Homo sapiens: one gene and its partner. The protein of the gene in region 1 interacts with the protein of each later gene in a pairwise test. Each region holds a gene or a part of one and is shown on either strand. Other genes may lie near its edges.

What was found.
Region 2: the proteins of CACFD1 (region 1) and LDAF1 interact in binary tests that used the Homo sapiens proteins (3 or more experiments, as listed by UniProt).

What each region holds. Positions count from the first base shown.
Region 1 is NC_000009.12:133,462,479-133,470,365, reverse strand, and holds part of CACFD1 (calcium channel flower homolog), read right to left. Parts: intron 6,884-7,887; coding exon 6,811-6,883; intron 5,045-6,810; coding exon 4,919-5,044; intron 4,130-4,918; exon of another isoform or gene 2,446-4,129; coding exon 2,338-2,445; exon of another isoform or gene 2,124-2,337; intron 2,027-2,123; coding exon of another isoform or gene 1,902-2,026; intron 1,895-1,901; exon of another isoform or gene 1,804-1,894; coding exon 1,713-1,803; coding exon of another isoform or gene 1,655-1,712; 3' UTR 1-1,654. UniProt on the Homo sapiens protein: Transmembrane protein which mediates synaptic endocytosis and fitness-based cell culling.
Region 2 is NC_000016.10:21,160,947-21,168,833, reverse strand, and holds part of LDAF1 (lipid droplet assembly factor 1), read right to left. Parts: intron 7,857-7,887; exon of another isoform or gene 7,750-7,856; 5' UTR 7,652-7,749; coding exon 7,556-7,651; intron 1,995-7,555; coding exon of another isoform or gene 1,923-1,994; intron 1-1,922. UniProt on the Homo sapiens protein: Plays an important role in the formation of lipid droplets (LD) which are storage organelles at the center of lipid and energy homeostasis. In association with BSCL2/seipin, defines the sites of LD formation in the endoplasmic reticulum.

The DNA of each region.
Region 1 (7,887 bases):
GCCAGGCAGAAGGGGGCCCGGGGTCCCACTACCTGGGTAGGAATGAGCAGAGGGCGGGCAGAGCCCTTGCTCCTTGTGGGAGGTAGACAGGTCTCACTGCATACATGGGACAGATGTGTGCACCCACACACATATACATACACACACACACACACACACACACACACACACACACAGCCCTTTGAACCCAGCACTGGCCTGAGGAAGGTGGCCCCGGAGGAACCCTGAAGGCACATGTCCACCAGGCTATAATGCCCCTGCCACCCTGGGGCTCAGCTGGCCAGACTCCCAGGGGTGGGATGCTGCTGACCCAGGAGCCCACCAAGTCCCCAGGGCAGTACTGGGCAGGGCCCAGAAAACCCCACGCCCAGCCCACCAGCCTGCCACTCCTGGCCTCAGATGCCACTCCCGGCCTCAGATGCCACTCCCAGCCTCAGACGCAGATGGGCCCGAGAGGTGTTCCTGGGAAACAGTTCACTTAGCAAGACCCAGTACCTGCGCTCCAGAAGCTCAGCGCAGGCCCAGCCTGGGGTTGGCCCCAGATGGAATATCTTCCACACCCGCCCGCTTCTGCCAAACCCCACCTGGGCTAAGCCAGGCCCGACCAGGCACCTGCCCGATGGCTGAGAGCCAGCCTCACGGTCAGAGAGGCCAGCGGGCTGAGGCCACAGGGCAGAGGGAATATGGGGGTGCACATCCTGGGCACCAGCTCTCTGCATCCTCCCTGGGTAGGCCTGGCTCCGGACAGCCTGGCACCCAGGGCAGTGGGGACAGCTCTGTGTGGGGAGGTGACTGTGGCCTCTGCCCAGTTCTTAAAAGGCAGAAGCTCCCTGAGGGCAGGGCTTGGGCAGGCCAGCAGGAGCACCTGAGTGGGGCTGAGGTCAGACCCACTAACCCACTAATGGGGCTGGGCTGTGGCTGATGTTGACGGGGCCACACCAGGGAGAGGGTGGGCACCCTCGGTGCCAGGGAGAGCCTGCTCTCCCCACTTCCTTAGCACCAAGGCCAGCAGGGGCGGGGGGTGATGGGCAGAACCTAGGGGCCCCAGCAGGCCCAGGGAGGAGGGGCAGCCGAGGGGCCTTGAGGTGGCCTGTCCAAGGTTCCCAGGGCCAGCAGGGAGCATCCCCCACCCAGCTGTCCAGTCACTGCCAAGGCTGCAGTTCCAGGTACCGGGGTGCACCTTAGGAGCCCTGTGGGCTTCTTCAGAAGGCAGGGTGACAGTGGGCGCTGCACCCTAGGCAGCAGTGGGAGGTTGCTGGCAGCGGCAGGCTGTCCCAGGCCCTGGGGCTCCACCTGCTAAGAGAGCTGGGGGAGGTCCCTCTGCTCAGTGCCCAGGTGGCAGGGTCCCACTTGCCCCTCCCCTCAAGCCAGGACCAGCATCTCCAGGGGAAGCTGCTCCCAGGTCACAGCAGGTCACAGGCAGCCCTGTCTGTGGTGTGAGATCTGCAGACCCACCCAGCAGAGGAGTAGGGCTGGGTAGTGTCCACACAGCTGCTGCAGGCTCTGCCTCAAGTCCAGCAGCCCAGACCCTCACACCAGCAGCCAGTGGCTCCTGGCTTAAGCCAGTCTGGAGAAAGGAGCAGAGGACTCCAGGTGTAGGGACACGTGCAAAGGCCCCTCTCCAGGCTGTGCCTCAGCGTGGACAGTCCAGGCCTCACTTGGACCCACACAGAGCCAGAAGAGGGGACAGGGAGGGAGGGGCGCCCAGCCCTTCACAGCTCCCCCTCCAGGGTCTCCGCGAGCTTCTCCTCATCCGCCTGCTGCCTCTGCTGCTGGATCCTGGCATAGGAGATCGCATCGCCCCTGGGGAGAGAGAGAGGCAGCGTCACGTGGAGCACCAGCCCCATGCCCACAGCCCTCCTGACCACTGCCCGGTTCCTGCCCTGTGACCCAGGTGTGACCTGCAGGCATTCTGATTTCCCCAGAGACAACTGCTGGGGTGGCAAAGGCCTGTCTTGTCCCCTCTGAGAATGGCCCAGGCTCCCTGGGATGCTGGGCTGCGAAGGAACCAGCCTCAGTCTGGGCTCTGCAGGAGAGAGGGTGGCAACTGAGTACAATGCCCGGTGCAGACCTGGGAGGGGAAGGGGCTCCCACCAGCCATGTTTTTGCTATCCTTGCTGCAGGCCGTGACGGGGCAAGACTGGGCCACGCAGAAGTGTTGTAAGTCCTCTGTCTTCACCCACTCGAGCTGAGCCCTGGAGGCACCAATGAGTTACTGGGACCTCTGCCTCGGTCTCCACTAGCTAAAAGGGGCCACTCTCAGATCCTCCTCACTGAAGGACTTCGGGGGGCGGAGGGAGGAAGGCCCTGCCCAGGGGCTGGGCCTGGCAGACGCACTTTTTGCCCAGAGCAGAGAGTCCGTACAGCACCCCCGTAGCAAAGGCGATGGCGTTGCCCAGCAGCGTGGTCAGGGTCAGGCTGATGACGATGGGAACGACCGCCATCCTGGGGGGAAAGCAGAGGTCAAGGGGGCACTCCGGCCCCACAGCCACCACATCCTTCCCCGCTTCCCAGACTCGGCCCAGCATCCTTCCTAGACACCCAGGGCACAGGAAGGATCCCCAAAAATCAACTGAGACACAGCTTCAGAAAGTCCTTCATCAGCCCTGAACTTGTCTGTAAAACTGTTCCATTCTGGGAATAGGATCCAAAGCTTTCATCAGATTTTTGAAGGGGTCTGTGATCCCAAAAAGAGCTAAACAGTAACGAGATGGTCCAGTGCCCTCACTGTGAGAAAAACTGGCCAGAAAGAGCCTGTGACAGAGAATCTGGCTTCCCATCCAGGACCTACTAGCTTCGCGGGCAAGTTACTCGGAATCTCCACCGCGGAGAGGGGATCAAAGCTTGTCCGAGGTCAGTCATGTTACCTACACAATGCTGACCACCACAGGCACTAAATAAATGCTCTGAGTTATAGAGTAACACCAGCCACATCGCCACAAGTAAGGTCCCTGGAATTCAACCACATGGAACACAGGGTCTCATCATGGGAGGGCTGCAGGCTGCGGGGTCTGCGGGGTCGGCCCAGACCTTGCTGCAGTTTGGCGTCACCTGGTGGCAGGGTCCACTGGGGCTTAAGCGTCCCCGGGGCTGATTCTCCATCCTGGCTGGAATTTCCAGGCCAGCAGCAATTCCTGGGCTAACTGGGCCAGGAGGATACCTGCAGCCTGGAGGCCAGCGCTCTGTCCTGTCGCCTCCCTAGAGGAGGCTGCCTGTGCAGGAGGACAAGACTCGTGGCCAATTGCATTCTACCTCAGTTTCCATTCTTGTAGACATGTGGTTGTGAGATTTTTCTGTCGTTAAAAAATTTCAAAATGATAAAATAATAATAGAAATTACAAAGAAAAAGACCACGGCGGGGAACCTTCTGACAAAAACAAAATTAAAGGCAAACAAGAGCCTGGAAAAATAGTTGCAGGAAATACAACCAAGGATCATGAAATCTTTAATACAGAAAACACACTGAACTTGCTAAGCAGAACACTGAGGTTCCCACAGGTTAAAAAGTAAACTCGAAAATTTTCATATCAGAAAATGCAATGGAAACACGTGGGAAAATATTTTTCCCTCTTAGATAACAAATAGATAAATGCGAATGTGAAGTGGTGTGCAGCCCTGGGCTGGGGTGGGGGCGGGGGAGAGACTCAAGGGACCTCTTTGGAAAGCAACGTAGCCACGCATCTTAAAATATTTTTAATGATCAGAATCTTTGACCCAGTAATTCCACACCTGAAAATAGATATTAAGGAAATCATCATAAACACAGAAAAAGTTTTAGCAGACACATGTTTATCACACCTCGATTTACACCAGTTAAGAAATTAAGAACAGCATGATACATCCAGCTGAATGAATATTCCTGTATTGAAAGAATGTTATAAAGTCTGTGGTGATGTTCAAATGCTTATATCATTACTCTAAGTGAAAAAAGGCAGGATACAAACTTATTCATAATGGTTATAACTGTGTTAAAAGCAGGCTTTTAAAAAATGCCTGCAGACAGGAAGCACACACATCAGAAGATTAGCAGGCAGCGGGCTTCGAGTAACATTGTTCTATATTCCAAATTATTGTGAATGAATTTCTATGATGTCTAGCATTTTTAAAATACAGTTTTTTGAACCCCTAAGGACATGACACTGCGTGTAGATAAGAGCTTTGTGATCCTGTGTTCTTCGTGATTTAGATATGGCACAAGATGGCTCCAGAACTAAGCATGTGGCTTGTGCTCTTACCATCAAAACTACCGGGCCTCTCTGAAGGGGAAGCAAGCTTGCATCTAGACTTCTTTCTAAAGATAACCTAGACAATAATGAATACAGCTGCCACCAGCCTCCTATGCACTAGAGGCATTATTCTAGGAGTTTCCGTGTATTAAGCTTATCCTGAAATTAGTTCCTTCTTATGACTGAGAGGAGAAGTATTACATATTGATTTCATTGTTAGAAATGGGAAAATTTTTAACAAGTGTATTTAGAGGGCAACCACATTTTCTGCTCTGCAACCTGCTTCTCCCCCTTCACGTCAGGACATCTAGATGAACCCACTCTTCGGAAAGGCTGCAGAGAAACATGTCCTACAGACCTACTATCATCTGGTTAACAACTCCCAGTGGACGGACCAAAATTCCAGACGCTTCCCACTTTCTCTCCACTGCACGGATGCTGCCACACATGCTCATATACCTCTGAACCTTCCAGTGACTACGGCACAGCGACAGCTGAGTTCCTGGGCGCAGAACCACTGGGGCACGTTTTGGCAGCTATGAGCAAATCACTGTGCACAAAGGCAATCCCAGTTTACACTTCCACAGAGAGGAACTGAATACACTGCCCACCCTCACCTGACTTTTGGGTCCTATTTTGTCAGTGGGGTTTTGGGGAACTGTGTCACGGGACCCTGCCCAGCAACCCCTCACCCGCAGTAGAAGACAGCCTTCTGCCAGGAGCGCAGCCGGTCCACCTTCTCCGCCACTGTGTTTGCAAACTCGATGAACTGGCAGCAGAAGGGCGCCTCACACAGCAACAAGATGAAGGCATTCATGCTGCAGGGACCAGGGCAGGAGAAGAGCAGCGACTGACAATCCCAGGAGGATGAGGGCGGCCCCCAGTGCCAGTGCCATAAGGAATGCCACCTCCCTCACCCTCCTGCCCTCATCCCTCCTCCTCTGGGAAGCCGCCCGGCTGCTCCAGGGCACCTGCTCGTACCCCTCGGAGAGCCTCTGCTGAAGACTCCAGCACTCCCCAGCTGCTCCTGCACACCCATCTCCCCAGCTGAACTGAACACTCCTAGAGGGAAGCCCCTGGGCTTCTGCTTCCCTTTATCCTCCTCCTGTGTGACATGGAGGAAAGGGGACCCCACATCATGGCACTGCTACAACGCTGCGGCAGGTTCATCCACAGATGGAGCACTGGCAGCTGTGTCCTCTGTCTGCTGTTAGTATTATCGCCATGGCCACCAAAAGCCGTCAGTGGCACCAGCACCAGGAAGGCTGCCCCACCAGGGAGGCAGAGAGCTGGAGCCACGCAGTCCCAAAACAGTCACGGAGAGCTGCCCACACACCTGATGCCACCGGCCCCAGGCCCGGGGACACCCAGGGGAAGCCCACGCTGGGGAGGAAGAACTTTAGCAAGTCCTTGCATCCAGCCCTATGTTTGGGGTGGGAACAGCTAAGCCACTGGTGACGGAAGGTGTCTGCTGTGGTCTTGGTATTCTCTATGCATGGATAACAATCAGTTAGCAGACACTGAGCCAGGCCCTTCTGTCCCCAGGCCTGGGAGAAAAGTGCCATCATTATGCCTGTGTAACAGAAATGCAGGCTCAGGACACCTAAGAGCCACCCCAAGCCCGGGGCAGGCACTCTCTTCACAACTCTTAACCACTGCACCCGCCCCGAGCCTCCCACACACCAGGCCTCCAAGCACGGGCTCACTCTGTGCTGGGCCAGCCCTTCCACTTCAAACTCGGCCAGGCTCCGACTCCACCCCCTGAAGCTGGGCTGGGCGCCTCTCTGTCCATCCCCCTTCCCTATCCACCACTGGCCAGCACAAGCACTGAGGACCCCACCACAGCAGGCCCCCGAGGCTCTCCACTGGCCATAGGTCACTGGGGACGGGACCTGAATCTCGTCTAGCTCTGTACCCCTCAAGGCACCAAGCCCCATGAGGACACTCATCAATTCCTGGTGCACCGCCACTTCTCACGTGCCCCAAGCCACACGGGCCTGCCCTCACCCCGCCTTCCCTTCCGATGGGATGGCGAAACCCTGGCAGGAGGTGGGCATGGAACGCACATGAGGGTGTTCTGACCACGGGTTCCCGTGACAACTCCGACCCGCCTCTCCCATCTATCTTTGGCACAGCTCCGAGCTCGAGTGCCCTCTCCCAGCAGACCATTCAACCCAGTCCTCAGCCAGCCCCAATGAACAGCCTTCCCCACCCCAGTCCTGGGAGCTCCCAGAGGGCGAGGGCCCCAGTATAGTGGACTTGGCATCTGCAGTCTCAGTGGATGCTCCAGAAATGTCTGGAGCACTGATGGCCTTGCCCCTGCACCGGATGAAGGCCGGGGTGGGCATTCCCTGGGCCTTGACCTCTCATTAGGAAACTAAACATGGTGGGGGTATGAAGGGGAAGAAGCCGCATGCTGTGGCCAGAAACTCACATGCCCGAGGCACCCAGGCTGGAGCCAGTAGCCATGGCAACCACAAGGATGCCCACTCCCACGGCCCCTGCCACTCCTCTGTCCCGGGAGGTGCCCAGCAGATTCCCGACCAGCAAGACCCCCGGGGTGGGACGGCCATGCATTACTCACATCATCCACACGCCGGCCGCAATGTTCAGAGGGTGGATGGTGATGCAGTTGAAGAGGCCAGAGATCGCGCAAGCTTGAAACAAGAGACACGGGCAGGAGTCAGCAGGGAGGCAGGCGGAGCCCGCTGGGAAGGCGGCCTTGGGAGATGACTGGAAAGGACGAGAGTCTCTGCGGATGCTCAGCACACAGTTCTCACAGCACCCAGAAGCCTGCCCTCTATCGTCTGAGACAGGTGAGGAGACGCAGAGAGGTGCAGTGCCTTGCTTGCCCCAGGCCCCACAGCAAGGTGGCAGCAAGGTGGCAGGTGGATCTCACAGCATCCTCTCCCCGTTTCAGGGCTCAGAGGAGCTGGCCCTCTGACCCCAGCTACATCAATATCCACCTCAAAGGGAGGTTAGGATTAAAGAAGGATTAAAGAGTGAATGTCCCTCAAGGATTCAGGCCAGTGCTCCCCCAAGACTCAGCCTTCGGTAAGGGTCACTTGCCACCATTCACAGGGCCGGCCACACAAGAAGTCCTCTGACTCAGAAAATGTGGCTTGGATTTTGGTTGGGACAAGGGGTGCCTCTCTCAGAACAGAGATGGGAACCAGGTAAGACTGAGCAGCAGTTCCAGCTCTAACTTCCTCACCAGCCCTGTGCCACTGGCACGCTATCTTCATCTTCCTAGACCCGTTTCTCCTCTTGCACATGAGCAAGTCCCACAGCCCAGCCACCCACCGCTGAAATGCCATAAGGCCAGGAAGGGGAGGGGGCATCGTTTTCCACCCCAGAACGTGGCTTCTCTGATGCTCAGATGTGCAGCCTTGACGCCCCGCCTCCCAGCTGCACCTCACCAGCAGGGTCTCTTGCACCCAACTCCCTCCTCCACCCACAGCCTGCAGCCTGGCTTCACCAGGAACTCCAGGAGCCTTCAAGGCAGGTCCAAGGAGGTGGCTGCTGGGCAGGGAGCAAGCCCAGGCCATCACTGAGGGGGGCCTTGGAGGCAGCAATTAGCACCCAGCTCATTAAACTTGCAGCAGCTCCTCTGCACCTGATCCCTCCACCTGGGTCTGGAATTCTGCTGTTTTCCATTTTC
Region 2 (7,887 bases), on another chromosome or scaffold:
AAATTAAATTATATTTAATTTTATATAAAAATATAATTATATTTATAAAAATATAAATATAAAAATATTTATAATTATAATATATAAAATAAAAATATAATATAATATTAAAAATATATATATAATTATATATAAAAATATAATTGTAATGTAATATAAAAATCATAATTATAATATTGTATAATTATATTAGATATATTATACTAATATTAGTTATCAATATTCATATAGCATTATTATATATTATATAAATATATTATATTTATATATGTATATAATTATAATATGTATTATATTATTTATATATTATTTATTATAATTATAATTATTAAAAGCATTATTATTAAAAGCATTATTAAGCATTAAAAGCTAATCACTTGTCTATTAGTAAGCATTAAAAGCTAATCACTTGTCTATTCACTTGTCTATTAAAAGCTAAGCTCAGCATTAAAAGCTAATCACTTGTCTAGAGTCGCACAGCCTCCAAGTGGCAAAATCTCAGCATTAAAAGCTAAGGCCTGGCCAGCATGGTGGCTCATACCTGTAATCCCAGCACTTTGGGAGGTGGAGGCAGGCGGGTCACCTGAGGTCAGGAGTTCAAGAACAGCCTGGCTAACATGGTGAAACCCTGTCTCTTTTAAACATACAAAAATCAGCCAGGCATGGTGGCGCGTGCTGGTAGTCCCAGCTACTAGGGAGGCTGAGGCACGAGAATCGTTTGAGCCTGGAAGGCGGAGGTTGCAGTGAGCCAAGATGGCGCCATTGCACTCCAGCCTGGATGACAGAGCAAGTCTCCTTTTCTTTTCTTTCTTTCTTTTTTTTTTTTTGAGATGGAGTTTTGCTCTTGTCGCCCAGGCTGGAGTGCAATGGCAAGATCTCGGCTCACTGCAACCTCCGCCTCCCGGGTTCAAGCCATTCTCCCGCCTCAGCCTCCCGAGTAGCTGGGATTACGGGCGCCCCCACCACGCCCAGCTAAGTTTTGTATTTTTAGTAGAGACAGGGTTTCACTATATTGTCCAGGCTGGTCTCGAATTCCTGACCTCAGGCGATCCACCCGCCTTGGCCTCCCAAAGTGCTGAGATTACAGGCGTGGGATACCGCGCCCCACCGCAAGTCTCCTTTTCAAAAAAAAAAAAACAAACCTAAGGTCTTGGACTCAGAATGTCCAATGCTTGCAACAGCTGCCACCACATCAAGTAAAAATGCTTTTATGTCATCAACCTGGTTACCATAGTTGGCCACAGCCTGTGACTAATGCAAGTTTATGTTGTGTTAATAGTTTATTTTCCTTCACCGGGCAAAAAGGAATTTTCGATCTGACTCAATGGAGGGAGACTGCTTTAACGCAGAGCTGGCCATAGGCAAATCCGCAAAGATGGGTTTCCCCCTCTCCTCCTTAGGCTCCACGCCTTCTCTCTCCTCAGTACTGGTATTCTAGATCCTGTTCACTTGAAAGGAACCATTATTCCAGAACCTCCTTCCATCATAACTGGTCCTTCCTGAGCCTCATCCCTACGGCCTTGCAGGCCAACAGATGAAAAGAAGACATAATTCAGGTCCCCAAAACACATGTGCCTCCTAGGAAGAAGAGTTTACCCAAGTGGTTTAAACAGTGGGATTTTCAGGGCGAGTTGGAAGGCAGGAGGGGTTTGTGGTTCATGCTGAAGGAACTAAAGTGCAAGCTGCACCCTGCTTAAATAAAAGAGGCCATGCCAAGAAGCCACAGCCATTGGTCTTGGGCTTCAGCGTGGTCTCCTAAGGATTACTCTCGAGGCATGGCCAATTTCACTCCCTGCCAGGCCACAGGACGGCATAATGCCCGCTGACCTCACTGCCTCCTGCTACCCCACCATTCTGACAAAAGCCACCAAAGAGCTTGCTATTCCGCTTCTCTAGCCAGAGATGACTGTAGCAGGAATCACCTTGGAGCCAGCACTGCCCAGCCTGGACACTCCATCATCAGAGTCCAGTGAGATCCTGCTGTGTTGGGGCAGCTGAAAGAGAAAGAGAGGCGGAGGAGCCGTGGGAGTCACCACACAGAATGTGGGCTGGTCCCTTGCGCTGTCTCAGGTCCTGACTTCTTTCCAGTTCGAATCCACATGCATCCTTATTTGATGCTCCCTGTGTCACCTGATCTTTACAATCCAAAGAACCACAGTGGGGAGAGCAGATGGGCTCTCCAGGAAAGGGAGGCAGCAGTACACCCGTGAGTATGCTGCGCCAGCGAGGGAAGGGCTGTGCAGCGGAAGGAACTTGTGAGGCTGGGACACCAGGACACTGGGCTTGCTAGCTTATCCCCGGGCTGTCCATCACAGGCCACCTGCGCCATTCAGCACTTGAAATGCTCCTCCTGTGACTGATGGCCTGGATTTCCAATTTAATTTAATTTAAATTTTAAAGCTGAGACTTGATTCAGTTGTTGGAAAAATTTTAAGTATGTTTCCAATAGGTTGGGTATGTGAATCTATTTCGCTGAATTGTAAGTTTTATAAAATCTGAATAGAGATTAAATATTTCCAATGAAAATTTGGCATCAGAATTGAGATGTGCTTTAAGTGTAAGAAAAAAAAATGCAAAATATCTCATTAATACTTTTTTATATTACCTGTTGAAATTATAGTGTTTTGGATATATTGTGTTAAATTGAGAATATATTATTAAAATTAATCTCTGGCTGGGCACGGTGGCTCACACCTGTAATCCCAGCACTTTGGGAGGCTGAGGTGGGCAGATTACTTAAGATCTGGAGCTTAAGACCAGCCTGGTCAACATGGTGAAACCCCGTCTCTAGTAAAAATACAAAAAAATTAGTCAGGCAGAGTGGTGCGTGCCTGTAATCCTAGCTACTTGGGAGGCTGAGGCGGGAGAATCACTTGAACCCGGGAGTCAGAGGTTGCAGTGAGCCGAGATCACGCCACTGTACTCCAGCCTGGGCGACAGAGCGAGACTCCATCTCAAGATAAATAAATAAATAAAATTAATCTCATTTGTTTCTTTTTGTTTTTAATGTAATTATTAAAAAACTTAAAATTATATATGTGGCTCACATAATATTTCTGCTAGACAGCACTCATTTAAATTTCATCTGGGAAAAAAAAAACAGGGAACAAACTGCTGTCATTTGAGCAGAACTATGACATGATTAAAGGAATGATTTAAGAAATATGAACCTAGCAATCATGTGCAAGAGGCAGGTAGAAAGATTTGCAGGAAATCAGGCAAGATATACTGTGGTCAAGTCCAGGCTGATGGCAGAGAGGGAAGAGAAGGGGGAGGGGTAGATGGGTATGAAAGTGGAATGACAAAAGAAGGAATACACAGGACTTAGGGACTGTATGGCACAGGGATATAAAAGGAAACAGGCAAGACTGTTCCACTTCAGTCCTTAAGGAATCCACCTTTTTCTTAGCCTTTTGTTTTTTTGAGATGGAATCTCACTCTATTGCCCAGGCTAGAGTGCAATGGCATGATCTCGGCTCACTGCAACTTCCGCTTCCCAGGTTCAGGCGATTTCCAGCTAATATTTATATTTTTTAGTAGAGATGGGGTTTCACCATGTTGGCCAGGCTAGTCTCGAACTCCTGACCTCAAGTGATCTGCCCGCCTCGGCCTCCCGAAGTGCTAGGATTATAAGCATCAGCCACCATGCCCCGCCATTCTTAGTCTTTTCCGAGTCTGGGCTCTATAATCAAAGAGAAAGTCATTTAGATATGCAAAGAGACCAAGATTCAGATGATTAAACCCAGAAATTGTCTTCTCCCAGGAAGTACAGCTGAGCTCCAGCCAGTCTGTCCCAGGAGGGGAGGACACGATTCAACCACACCTAATAATAACAGAGAACATTCATTAAACACTCAGGTGCTGGGCACTGCTTTAAGCACCTCTCGTATTATTTCCTCATTTATTTCTTCCTACAATGCTACGAGGTAGGTAAAAAAGAACGACCTAACACTATTTAAACTCAGGGGGGTAGAACGTAGCAATTAACATTTCATTCTCATGGCAACAGAGGGGGATGCAATGGAAAGATGGAAAGTGGGAGAGGTTATTATTCAGTAACATGCACTGTGATTTTCCATCACCAGCCTGGAGGTAGACACAGGTTACCCAATCTAGGCTCTGTAAGCACAGTGCAGCACTGCAGAGCCCAGGAAGGCCAGGCTGAGACAGACTGACAACATTATGCGCCACCCTCTGTGCTAAAGCTTCAAACAGCATCTCAGATAATCTTCATAACAAACCTCTGAGCCTGACATTGCTCATTTTAGAAAAGAGGAGATGGCAGCTGGGCATGGTGGCTCACTTCTGTAATCCCAGCACTTCAGGAGGCCAAGGCAGGAGGACTGCTTGAGGCCAAGAGTTTGAGACCAGCCTGGGCAACACAGTGAAAGATGCTGTCTCTCCAAAAAATAAAATAAAACATTAGCTGAGTATGCTGGTGTGCACCTGTAGTCCCAGCTACTCAGGAGGCTGAGGCTGGAGGTGTTGCTTGAGACCAGAAGTTCGAGGCTACAGTAAGCCATGATCACACCACTATACTCCAGCCTGGAAGACAGAGTGAGACTCTGTCTCAATAAAAAATAAATAAAAAATTTTAAAAAAGGAGATGGAAATTCAGTGAGCCTAAGTGACTTGCCCAAGGTCAGACAAAGGCGGTTGGCTTCTAAACTAGGGACAAAGTGGCCAGTATTTGAGAACATGAAGACTGAAACTTGGATGATTCAGGAGCCAGGCAAATTCCCTGGTATCAGAATGCAAAAAACAATCAATGATTCATTATCTCTTCCTAACAGGAGAAAGACGAAGGGTCAGGACCATTTACAACCACTGGTGGCCAGGTGCGGTGGCTCACGCCTATAATCCCAGCACTTTGGGAGGCCGAAGTGGGTGGATTGCCTGAGGTCAGGAGTTGGAGATCAGCGTGGCCAAAATGGTGAGAAACCCCGTCTCTACTAAAAATACAAAAACAAACAAACAAAAAAGGCAGGTGAACGTGACTATTAACTAAGTTCAGACAGGGCCAGGGTGAATGCCTAGTGCAGTGCTTGGCATACAGTCAGTGCCAAGAAATATGCAGTCAATCCTTATTACTCATGATTCCATATTTGTAAATTTGCCTCCTCACTGAAATTTATTTGTAACCTCAAAATGAATACTGGCAGTGCTTTTTGTTTTGTTTTGTTTTGTCTGAGATAGAGTCTTGCTCTGTCACCCAGGCTGGAGTACAGTGGTGTGATCTTGGCTCCCTTCAACCTTCACCTCCTGGGTTCAAGCGATTCTCGTGCCTCAGCCTCCCAAGAGGCTAGGATTACAGGCGCACACCACCACACCCAGCTAATTTTTGTATTTTTCGTAGAGAAGGGGTTTCATCATGTTGGCCAGGCTGGTCTTGAACTTCTGGCTCAAGGGATCCACCCGCCTCGGCCTCCCAAAGTACTAGGATTACAGGTGTGAGCTACCACGCCTGGCCTGCAGTGCTTTTGAGGTCATTAGTGGACACGTCCACAACAGCAAAAAGTGGAGTCACCTGCCACGTACATTCCCAGCTGAGGTCAAGCAAGGTGACACCGAGCCTTCCTGTTTCATCCTTTAAACAAGTGTCACTGTGGTCTATTTAGTGCCACGTTTATGCTTTAGTTTGGTGATTTTACTGTTGAAAATGGTCCCCAAGTGTAGTGCTGAAGTGTTCTCTAGCGTTCCTAACCATGAGAAGGCTGTGATGTGCCTTATGCAGAAAATACATGTGTGTGATTAGCTTTGTTTAAGACATGAGTCATAGTACTGTTGTTGGCCCTGAGTTCAACGTTAATGATCAACAATATATATTAACATGTCTTTAAACAGAAATACACATAAAACGAGGTTATGTACTGATCAGCTGACAAAAATGTTGTGAACAGGAGGCTCACAGCAACTGAATCCTGTATTTCCCCTAGGAGCGATGGTTTGGTATGTGCTAATTCAGTGTCTGCAGTAACTTTATAGAACGTAACTACCATGGTTAATGAGAATCAGCTGTAAATGTGGAACAGGCAGGAGGACCCTTCTTACTGAGCTAACTTTTAATAACAAGAGTCCCCGCCAGCTGGCGAGAAAGCTGCTTGTCCAATTTAAAAATAGCTTGGTAAATCCACAAAGAGTGCCAAATAAATTCTGGAGCAAGTCCAGAATTTATTGTTGTAGATTGCAAACAAGCATCTCTTCGAGTAGACCCGCTGTGCTATCCAATACAAAAAAAAATACACCACAAAATAGTTCATTTTGTTACATATACATATGTATTTTTATAGGTATATTGCATAGAAAAAAGGTCTAGAATGACATACAAAATGTTAACAGTATTATCTCTGAAAGCTGTTTTCTTTTCCCTGACAAAATGCTGAAAGACATATAGAAGAAAGCAATAAGGATAAATATGCAAGAAAACATAACGCTATCTGAAGTCTCATTGCCACTGAGTGGCCACTGAATACCTAAAAAGTGGCTAACTCGAATTGAAATGTGCTAGAAGTGTAAAATATGCGCACGGGGGGTTTTGAAGAGGGAGTTCAAAAAAGAAGGTACAATGTTTCAAGAATCTTTTTTCATTAATAATTTTGTATAAATGATTACATGTTGAAATATTTTTGATATCTTAGGTTGAATAAAAACATTATTAAAAATAATTTTTTTTTTTTGGAGACGGAATCTCGCTCTGTCGCCCAGGCTGGAGTGCGGTGGCACAATCTCAGCTCACTGCAACCTCCGCCTCCTGGGTTCAAGTGATTCTCCTGCCTCAGCCTCCCGAGTAGCTGGGACTACAGGCCTTACCACCACACCTGCTCATTTTGGTAATTTTAGTAGAGATGGGGTTTTACCATGTTCGCCAGGCTGATCTCGAACTTCTGATCTCAAGTGATCCACCCACCTCAGCCTCCCAAAGTGCTAGGATCACAGGCGGGAGCCACTATGCCCAGCCAAAATTAATTTTACCTATTTCTTTTTACTTCTTACATGTGGCTACTAGAAAAATTCTAAATTACATACGTGACTCACATCATATTTCTATCGGACCTGGATTCCTAGTGGAACAATGAACTCAAATCTTGAAGTAGGCTTTTGTCTCTCATTTTCAGGGTAACAGATAGGGCAAAATTCACAACAAAACCAAACAAAACCAAAAAAAGGATGATATCTGTTGCACAGACTTCTTTATCCAGCTAAAGAATTGCATTTGCCATTAGTGGCAAATGACTCAATGTTGGCTTAAGGGATGTAATTGGAAGTATTGTGTGCGACTCCCAGAAGTCTCCTTAAATTGTAGGTGGCTTGCACTTCTCTCTTCCCCCCTCCTCAAATCCTGTTGCCTGAAAGATGGATACAATGGCTGATGCTCTTGCAGTCATCTCAGACAAGGAGTTTGAAGGTCACAGCATAGACATGGCAGGGCGGTAAGCCAGAAAGATTCTTGACTTACCTCCAAATTCCTTCTACTGGAGAAAGAAATAACTTTCTATCTTGTTTATGCTAGTGTTATATTGGGATTTTCCATTATACATAGTGATTGGAAACTGACCTTTGAGTTATTCTGGAAGGAGTCTATCAGCAGAGACAGCTTCTTCTGCAGTTCCTGCAAGTCCCTTGAGATACTCTGGGGCTCCTCTTTTGCCATTCTGAAGCTCACTTCAATCTCTTTAGGGATGAATTATCCTACCAGTAAATTCTCCAGTGCAGCCCGCGGTCCAATCTCTCATGTCGCTCTGTCTCTTGCTGTTACCAGAGGAAACAAAAGCCGTTAGTGGTCTTCATCCATCTGGTTCGACGAGAGCTTCTACCATCCTCATACCTTGATGGTGGGCATGCAGACGGAGGGTAACCTGGCAATATTCACAACAATTTCAGATTGCA